Linked DNA regions of Homo sapiens: regions 1 and 3 are each linked to region 2. The links come from fine-mapping of genetic effects on gene expression. A gene starts in region 2. Each other region holds a variant in brackets. All regions are shown on one strand. Distances are between the middles of the regions.

Region 1 (2,755 bases), 760 kb after region 2:
TTTCTCTTTTGCTTATGAAGCTTAGTGTGGCTGGATATAAAATTCTGGGTTGAAAATTCTTTAAGAATGTTGACTAGAGCTTCAACCACAGCCCTCCTTGGGGTATTAAAAAAGCCTGGAACTGACAACACCAGAATCCAGAATCTCCCAGTTTCTTAATACCAACTTGATGGTGGAATTTGCATTGTCTAGTGCAAAATGCAGCCCTTTTAACATTTACATTTGATCTTTATCTTCTGGTTATACAGATTACTTTATCTAATTTTACCTGTTATTTGTTTTAAAGCTTTTCACCCCATCTTACCCAACTTTTAGTGGAGAAAGGTAATACTCAAAAGCTCTCTCAATTCTTATAACAGCATATAAAACATTTCATGCTCATTAAACTAACACCCTTCATTCTCTCATTCTTTTCAAATGTCAATCCTTAAGTGACATAAATAAGGTTAGCAAAAAAAAAAAAAAAAAAAAAAAAAGAATGTTGACTATTGGCCCCCATGCTCTCTGGCAAAAAAAAAAAAAAAAGAATGTTGACTATTGGCCCCCACGCTCTCTGGCTTGTAAAGCTTCTGCAGAGAGATCCACTGTTAGTCTGATGGGCTTCCCTTTGTGGGTAACCCGACCTTTTCCTCTGGTTGCCTTTAACATTTTTTTCTTCATCTCAACCTTGGTGAATCTGACGATTATGTGTCTTGGGGTTGCTCTTGTGTCTTGGGGTTGCTCTTCTCAAGGAGTATCTTTGTGGTGTTCTCTATATTTCCTGAATTTGAATGTTGGCCTTTCTTACTAGGTTGGGGAAGTTCTCCTGCATAATATCCTGAAGAGTGTTTTCCAACTTGGTTCCATTCTCCCCGTCACTTTCAGGTACACCAATCAAACATAGGTTTGGTTTTTTCACATAGTCCCATATTTCTTGGAGGCTTTTGTTCATTCCTTTTCTTTTCTTTTTTTTTTCTCTAATCTTTTCTTCACACTTTATTTCATTAAGTTGATCTTCAGTCTCTGATATCCTTTCTTCCACTTGATCAATTCGGCTATTGATACTTGTGTATGCTTCACGAAGTGAAGCTGTGCTGTGTTTTTCTGCCCCATCAGGTCATTTATGTTCTTCTCTAAACTGGTTATTGTAGTTAGCAATTCCTCTAATCTTTTTCAAGGTTCTTAGCTTCCTTGCATTGGGTTAGAACATGCTCCTTTAGCTTGGAGGAGTTTGTTATTACCCACCTTCTGAAGCCTACTTCTGTCAATTCACCAAACTCATTCTCTATCCAGTTTTGTTGCCTTGCTGGTGAGGAGTTGTGATCCTTTGGAGAAGAGGCGTTCCGGTTTTTGGAATTTTCAGCCTTTTTGCACTGGGTTTTCCTCATCTTCGTGGATTTATCTACCTTTGATCTTTGATGTTGGTGACCTCCGGATAGGGTTTCTGTGTGGACATCCTTTTTGTTGACGTTGATGCTATTTCTTTCTGTTTGTTAG[C/T]TTTCCAGGTCTGCTGGAGTTTGCAGGAGGTCCTTTCTAGACCCTGTTTGCCTGGGTATCACCAGCGGAAGCTGCAGAACAGCAATGTTCCTTCCTCTGGAAGCTTCGTCCCAGAGGGGCACCCACCAGATGCCAGCCAGAGCTCTCCTGTATGAGGTGTCTGTCGACCCCTGCTGGGAGGTGTCTCCCAGTCAGGAGGCACAGGGATCAGGGACCCACTTGAGGAGACAGTCTGTCCCTCAGCAGAGCTCAAGCGCTGTGTTGGGAGATCCGTTGCTGTCTTCAGATTCACAGGCAGGAGCATTTAAGTCTGCTGAAGCTGTGCCCACAGCCACCCCTTCCCCCAGGTGCTCTGTCCCAGGGAGATGGGAGTTTGTTCTGTAAGGCCCTGACTGGGGTTGCTGAGTTTCTTTCATAGATGCCCTTCCCAGAGTGGAGGAATCTAGAGAGGCAGTCTGGCTACAGAGGCTTTGAGGAGCGCAGTGGGCTCCACCCAGTTCGAACTTCCAGGTGGCTTTGTTTACATTGTGACAGGAAAACTGTCTACTCAAGCCTCAGTAATGGTGGCTGGCCCTCCCCTTACCAAGCTCCAGCATCCCAGGTTGAATTCAGAGTGCTCTGCTGGTAGCGAGAATTTCAAGTCTGTGAATCTTAGCTTCCAGGGCTCCATGGGGGTGGGATCTGCTGAGCTAGACCACTTGGCTCCCTGGCTTCAGTCCCCTTTCCAGGAGAGTGAACGGTTCTGTCTCACCTCACTGGCGCTCCAGGCGCCACTGGGGTATGAAAATAAAACTCCTGCAGCTAGCTTGGTGTCTGCCCAAACGGCCGCCTAGTTTTGTGCTTGAAATCCAGGGCCCTGGTGGCGTAGGCACCTGAGGGAATCTCCTGGTCTATGAGTTGCGAAGACCGTGGGGAAAGCGTAGTATCTGGGCCAGAGTGCACTGTCCCTCATGGCACAGTCCCTCACGGCTTTCCTTGGCTAGGGGAGGGAGTTCCCTGACTCCTTGTGCTTCCCTGGTGAGCCAATGCCCAACCCTGCTTCAGCTCACCCTCCATGGGCTATACCCACTGTCTAACCAGCCCCAATGAGATGAGCTGGGTACCTCAATTGGAAATGCAGAAATCATCTGCCTTCTGCGTTGATCTCGCTGGGAGCTGCAGACCAGATCTGTTCCTATTTGACCATCTTGCCAGCCACCGATCGGAGTTTTGCTCTTTTGCCCAGACTGGAGTGCAGTGATGCGATCTCAGCTCACTGTAACATCCGCCTTCCGGTTTC
Region 2 (2,741 bases):
CCTCCTGTGTTCAAGCAATTCTCCCACCTCAGCCTCCCGAGTAGCTGGGATTACAGGCACCCGCCACTACGCCTGGCTCATTTTTTTTTATTTTTTAGTAGACATGAGGTTTCACCATGTTGGCCAGGCTGGTCTTGAACTCCTGACCTCAGGTGATCCACCCGCCTCCGCCTTCCGAAGTGCTGGGATTACAGGCATGAGCCACCGCGCTCGGCCCCTTGTTCATTCTTTGCATTCTGTCACAACTTTGTGCTCCCCCCAGCTGAATTTGTGATGTCCTCTTGTACCGGATGAGAGGGTCTCCATGCACACACAGACCTGGGACACTATCCATCCACAAGTTCCTAAATAGGCCAGAGCAGTGATGCTCAACCCAGACTCCATGTTACAATAATTTGGGGAGTTTTTAAAATTTACTGATGCCTAGGGTCCACTCCCAGCAGTTGATTCAACAGGTCTGCGGTGGGATCCAGGCTAGCGGGGAGGACTGTAAAAGCACCCCTGGTGATTCCAGCTGGTGTCTACCCAGGGGAGAGCAACCTTTGCTTGCTGGCGATTCCCAGGGGTGCAGAAGGACTGCTGGGTGTGTGGCTGCGTGCATATTTTAGCATCTGATTCACTGGGTCAGAAAAGGGTGTTTGCTAAATAAAGACTCAACAAAACTCCTGCTTGCAGGGGGCCCACCAAAGGTTCTAAATTTTTCCAGGCTCCCTCCCATAGGTGGTAATTTCCCTTCACCCTAAAGGTTCTGGAGGGGGTCATGAGTGTTTGAGAAGAGGCAAGCCTGGGAAGATGGACTCCGAGGACAGTAGGCACAAACCCTTTCTCAAGAAGGGCCAAGGCATTTTAAAGATAAGAAACTTAAAATCAGCGTATTTTTACATATAAGCAGCCACCTCTGCTCATCTGTGGCCCAGATACGAGTGGAGTGCGACAAGGGATAAACCATTTTCGCGCACTCTTCAGCGATGGGGCGAAAGTAACGGACCTAGTCCTCGGGAGCTGTCCCCGCCGACCCCCTCTGCCGCGACTTGACCCGCGGCGACTGCGCTGCCCCTTGGCTGCCCCTTCCGCTCTCGTAGGCGCGCGGGGCCACTACTCACGCGCGCACTGCAGGCCTTTGCGCACGACGCCCCAGATGAAGTCGCCACAGAGGTCGCACCACGTGTGCGTGGCGGGCCCCGCGGGCTGGAAGCGGTGGCCACGGCCAGGGACCAGCTGCCGTGTGGGGTTGCACGCGGTGCCCCGCGCGATGCGCAGCGCGTTGGCACGCTCCAGCCGGGTGCGGCCCTTCCCAGCGCGCCCAGCGGGTGCCAGCTCCCGCAGCTCAATGAGCTCAGGCTCCCCCGACATGGCCCGGTTGGGCCCGTGCTTCGCTGGCTTTGGGCGCTAGCAAGCGCGGGCCGGGCGGGGCCACAGGGCGGGCCCCGACTTCAGCGCCTCCCCCAGGATCCAGACTGGGCGGCGGGAAGGAGCTGAGGAGAGCCGCGCAATGGAAACCTGGGTGCAGGGACTGTGGGGCCCGAAGGCGGGGCTGGGCGCGCTCTCGCAGAGCCCCCCCCGCCTTGCCCTTCCTTCCCTCCTTCGTCCCCTCCTCACACCCCACCCCGGACGGCCACAACGACGGCGACCGCAAAGCACCACGCGGAGATACCCGTGTTTCTGGAGGCCAGCTTTACTGTGCTAGAGGAAGAGGGTCCCCACATCCGGCCCTGGCCCTCCTGGTCCGGTTTGCTGAAGCAACACACTTGGCCTACCCACTGGGTGGGGCAGGAAGTCTCGAGCCTTCACTTGGGGTGAGGAGGAGGGAGATCGGTCAGCAGCTTTACCGCCCGCTCTGCTCTCCACTGCGGAGACTGGGGCTCCGGCAGAGGCTGGACCGTGATCTTGAGGTTCAGGGGTGCATTCTGGGTGGATTCCCTTGGCATGGGTGGTCGGCCCTCAGCAACTGCAGCCCTCATTTGGCTCTGTCACCCTGGGCTGCCAGGACACAAGTCTTTCCATGCTTTTCCCAGTGCTTGACTTGGCACTCCCTGCAGGCAGGTGGGTATTGAGGATGGCAATGCATGTGGGGGATGTGGGAGTAGGGCTTAGAGGTCCAAGGTTCTAGGATACCCTCACCTGCAGCAATACCACTCATTCTGGCATCGTGAGCAGCGCTTAGAAGCCTCTGCACTGCAGTAAGCACAGCGGGGCCGCTCTGGAGCCACTGCCTCTAGCACATCCAGCCTGTAGGTCTCAGCCCACCTGGGGGAAAGTCAGGAAGGTCTGACTGGCCCTGGAAGGTGGGGGCACCCCACCCACATCCATGCCTCCTGCATCCCCTCCACCCTCCCTGCCATTTCCACAGGCCTTACCTTCGCGCCTGCAGCCGCAGGTCCTGCTCTGAGGGGCTGAACACATGCTGGAGCTGGTGCTTGGCAATTGCCTGCCACTTGCCTCTGTTTTCTCGCTCCAGCCGCTCCCAGATTTCTGGGATCTAGGAGAGAGAAGTGGAGAGTGGCAGGAAGGTGCTGGTAAAGTGGGACAGTGGTCCTGAGCAGCTAACTTTCCAGTGCCTACCTGTTCCAACACCAGGTCCTTCTTAGGAGGCTGGGTTTCAGTTAGGGTCAGATGGGCCAGGAAACTCTGCAAGTGGGCCAGGTTGGGCAGCTGGTCCAGCAGTGTGTCTGTGAGGAAGGCCCGAAGCTGCAAGGGTGTCCAGTGGAGGCCAGTGTGATGCAGGTGCTGGCCAGGGGGCC
Region 3 (2,755 bases), 30 kb before region 2:
TAGTACAGTCCTATGAACAAAATTTGGAGCATATTTGTTTCTCTACCTGATTTCTCCAGAATTTGGAAACTATTTGTGAGTATTCTTAACTTATGGCAATACAGTTATTTGCATAAGTGCCATAAGAATCTGTTTTTGCCTGGCATGGTGGCTCACTCCTGTAATCCCAGCACTTTGGGAGGCCAAGGTGGGCAAATCACCTGAGGTTGTGAGTTCGAGACCAGCCTGGCCAACATGGCAAAACCCCATCTCTACTAAAAACACAAAAATTAGCTGGGCATGGTGGCACATGCCTGTAATCCCAGCTACTCCAGAGGCTAAGGCAGTAGAATCGCTTGAACCTGGGAAGCAGAGGTGGCAGTGAGCTGAGATTGCACCATTGCACTCCAGCCTGGGCAACAGAGCCAGACTCCACCAAAAAAAAAAAAAAAAAAAAGAATCTGTTTTCATTTGTAACAGGACACAATTGGAGGAATTGATTATTTGACCAAGACTTTGACAGGAATGGTGTGCTTTCGTTTAAGGAATCAAACTTAACTTATGGAGCCAATAAAGCCCTTGGGAAAACTGGCCTCACATTTTGTGTACACAGTCCCTGTACAGGATTTCTTACCTGTGGTAAGTAAAGAATGTCACTTTCTGGGGCCAGGAGTGGTGGCTCATGCCTGTAATCCCAGCACTTTGGGAGGCCAACGCGGGAGGATCACCTGAGGTCAGGAATTCAAGACTAGCCTGATCAAAAAAAAAAGGATGTCACTTTCTGACAGGCACAGAGGCCCCAGGTTTATGTTTATCTTGGAACTTGAAAGGAGAGGAAATTCCATCCAACTCATGGGTATTTGATGGCACAAATCCATGGCTGGGCAGGGCTTTAAAAAGTCTTACCTGAGATTCCTCTTATGGGACAAAATAAATTATTCTTGCTGCACTGTATACAAATATTTAGGCCAAGTATAATAAGCAAACAAGTCATACCATGATTTGTCTTTAGTAAAATGGGAAATTGGAGAGAGAATAAAATCATGTTTCAAAACGAATGTTCACCTGTTGTTAGATTCTAGTCTTAACTGTTTTTTTGTTTGTTTGCTTCCAATTTTTATGATTTTCTACAGTTTGGA[A/C]TGAATTTTTCTTGGCTACAAGTCTTCAAATTAAGTTTTCAATTTTTTTCCTTCTTTTTTTTCATTTTCCTAATTTGGAGTCACTGAAAACTAAGCTGTGTGTTTTTTTTTTTTTTTTTGAGACAGAGTCCCGCTCTGTCACTCAGGCTGGAGTGCAGTGGCAGGGTCTCAGCTCACTGAACCTCCGCCTCTCAGGTTCACGCCATTCTCCTGCCTCAGCCTCCTGAGTAGCTGGGACTACAGGCAACCACCACCACGCCCGGCTATTTTTTTTTTGTATTTTTAATAGAGATGGGGTTTCACCGTGTTAGCCAGAATGGTCTCGATCTCCTGACCTCGTGATCTGCCCGCCTCGGCCTCCCAAAGTGCTGGGATTACAGGAGTGAGCCACTGCAATCGGCCACTGTGGTTTCTTTTCTTTTTTTTTTCTTTTTTTTTTTTAATTATTATTTTTTTATTGATCATTCTTGGGTGTTTCTCGCAGAGGGGGATTTGGCAGGGTCACAGGACAATAGTGGAGGGAAGGTCAGCAGATAAACAAGTGAACAAAGGTCTCTGGTTTTCCTAGGCAGAGGACCCCACGGCCTTCCGCAGTGTTTGTGTCCCTGGGTACTTGAGATTAGGGAGTGGTGATGACTCTTAACGAGCATGCTGCCTTCAAGCGTCTGTTTAACAAAGCACATCTTGCACCGCCCTTAATCCATTTAACCCTGAGTGGACACAGCACATGTTTCAGAGAGCACAGGGTTGGGGGTAAGGTCACAGATCAACAGGATCCCAAGGCAGAAGAATTTTTCTTAGTATAGAACAAAATGAAAAGTCTCCCACGTCTACATCTTTCTACACAGACATGGCAACCATCCGATTTCTCAATCTTTTCCCCACCTTTCCCACCTTTCTAGTCCACAAAACCGCCATTGTCATCATGGCCCGTTCTCAATGAGCTGTTGGGTACACCTCCCAGACGGGGTGGTGGCCGGGCAGAGGGGCTCCTCACTTCCCAGTAGGGGCAGCCGGGCAGAGGCGCCCCTCACCTCCCGGACGGGGTGGCTGGCCGGGCGGGGGGCTGACCCCCCCAACTCCCTCCCGGCCGGGGCGGGGGGCTGACCCCCCAACCTCCTTCCCGGACGGGGCGGCTGGCCGGGCGGGGGGCTGACCCCCCCACCTCCCTCCCGGACGGGGCGGCTGGCCGGGCAGAGGGGCTCCTCACTTCCCAGTAGGGGCGGCCGGGCAGAGGCGCCCCTCACCTCCCGGATGGGGCGGCTGGCCAGGCGGGGGGCTGACCCCCCCCCACCTCCCTCCCGGACGGGGCGGCTGGCCGGGCAGAGGGGCTCCTCACTTCCCAGTAGGGGCGGCCGGGCAGAGGCGCCCCTCACCTCCGGGATGGGGCGGCTAGCCAGGCGGGGGGCTGACCCCCCCACCTCCCTCCCGGACGGGGCGGCTGGCCGGGCGGGGGGCTGACCCCCCCACCTCCCTCCCGGATGGGGCGGCTGGCCGGGCGGGGGGCTGACCCCCCAACCTCCCTCCCGGACGGGGCGGCAGGCCGGGCGTGGGGCTGATCCCCCCACCTCCCTCACGGACGGGGCGGCTGGCTGGGCAGAGGGGCTCCTCACTTCCCAGTAGGGGTGGCCGGGCAG

The links. PIP is the estimated chance that this variant, and not a neighbour inherited with it, causes the effect. A credible set is the group of variants that fine-mapping cannot tell apart.
Region 1: its variant is the best candidate, but not a certain one, in a credible set for the expression of RASSF1 in whole blood (TOPMed, PIP 0.76).
Region 3: its variant is the best candidate, but not a certain one, in a credible set for the expression of RASSF1 in spleen (GTEx, PIP 0.56).

The regions. Positions count from the first base shown.
Region 1 is chr3:51,095,401-51,098,155 of GRCh38, forward strand. All of the region lies in intron 9 of DOCK3 (dedicator of cytokinesis 3), which reads left to right. Among named protein-coding and RNA genes, the nearest start is that of MANF, 290 kb to the right of the region's middle. The variant C/T (reference allele first, on the strand shown) is at 1,477.
Region 2 is chr3:50,339,453-50,342,193 of GRCh38, forward strand. RASSF1 (Ras association domain family member 1) reads right to left here and starts at 1,384. Exons shown (of 6, transcript NM_007182.5): 1 at 1,104-1,384. The coding sequence starts at 1,353. ZMYND10 (zinc finger MYND-type containing 10) reads right to left here. Exons shown (of 12, transcript NM_015896.4): 9 at 2,563-2,688; 10 at 2,358-2,479; 11 at 2,122-2,247; 12 at 1,660-2,033. The coding sequence ends at 1,958. RefSeq lists enhancers at 489-1,312, 1,313-2,135 and a silencer at 1,124-1,643.
Region 3 is chr3:50,309,046-50,311,800 of GRCh38, forward strand. It overlaps a transcript of HYAL1 not described here. Among named protein-coding and RNA genes, the nearest start is that of HYAL1, 6.8 kb to the left of the region's middle. The variant A/C (reference allele first, on the strand shown) is at 1,119.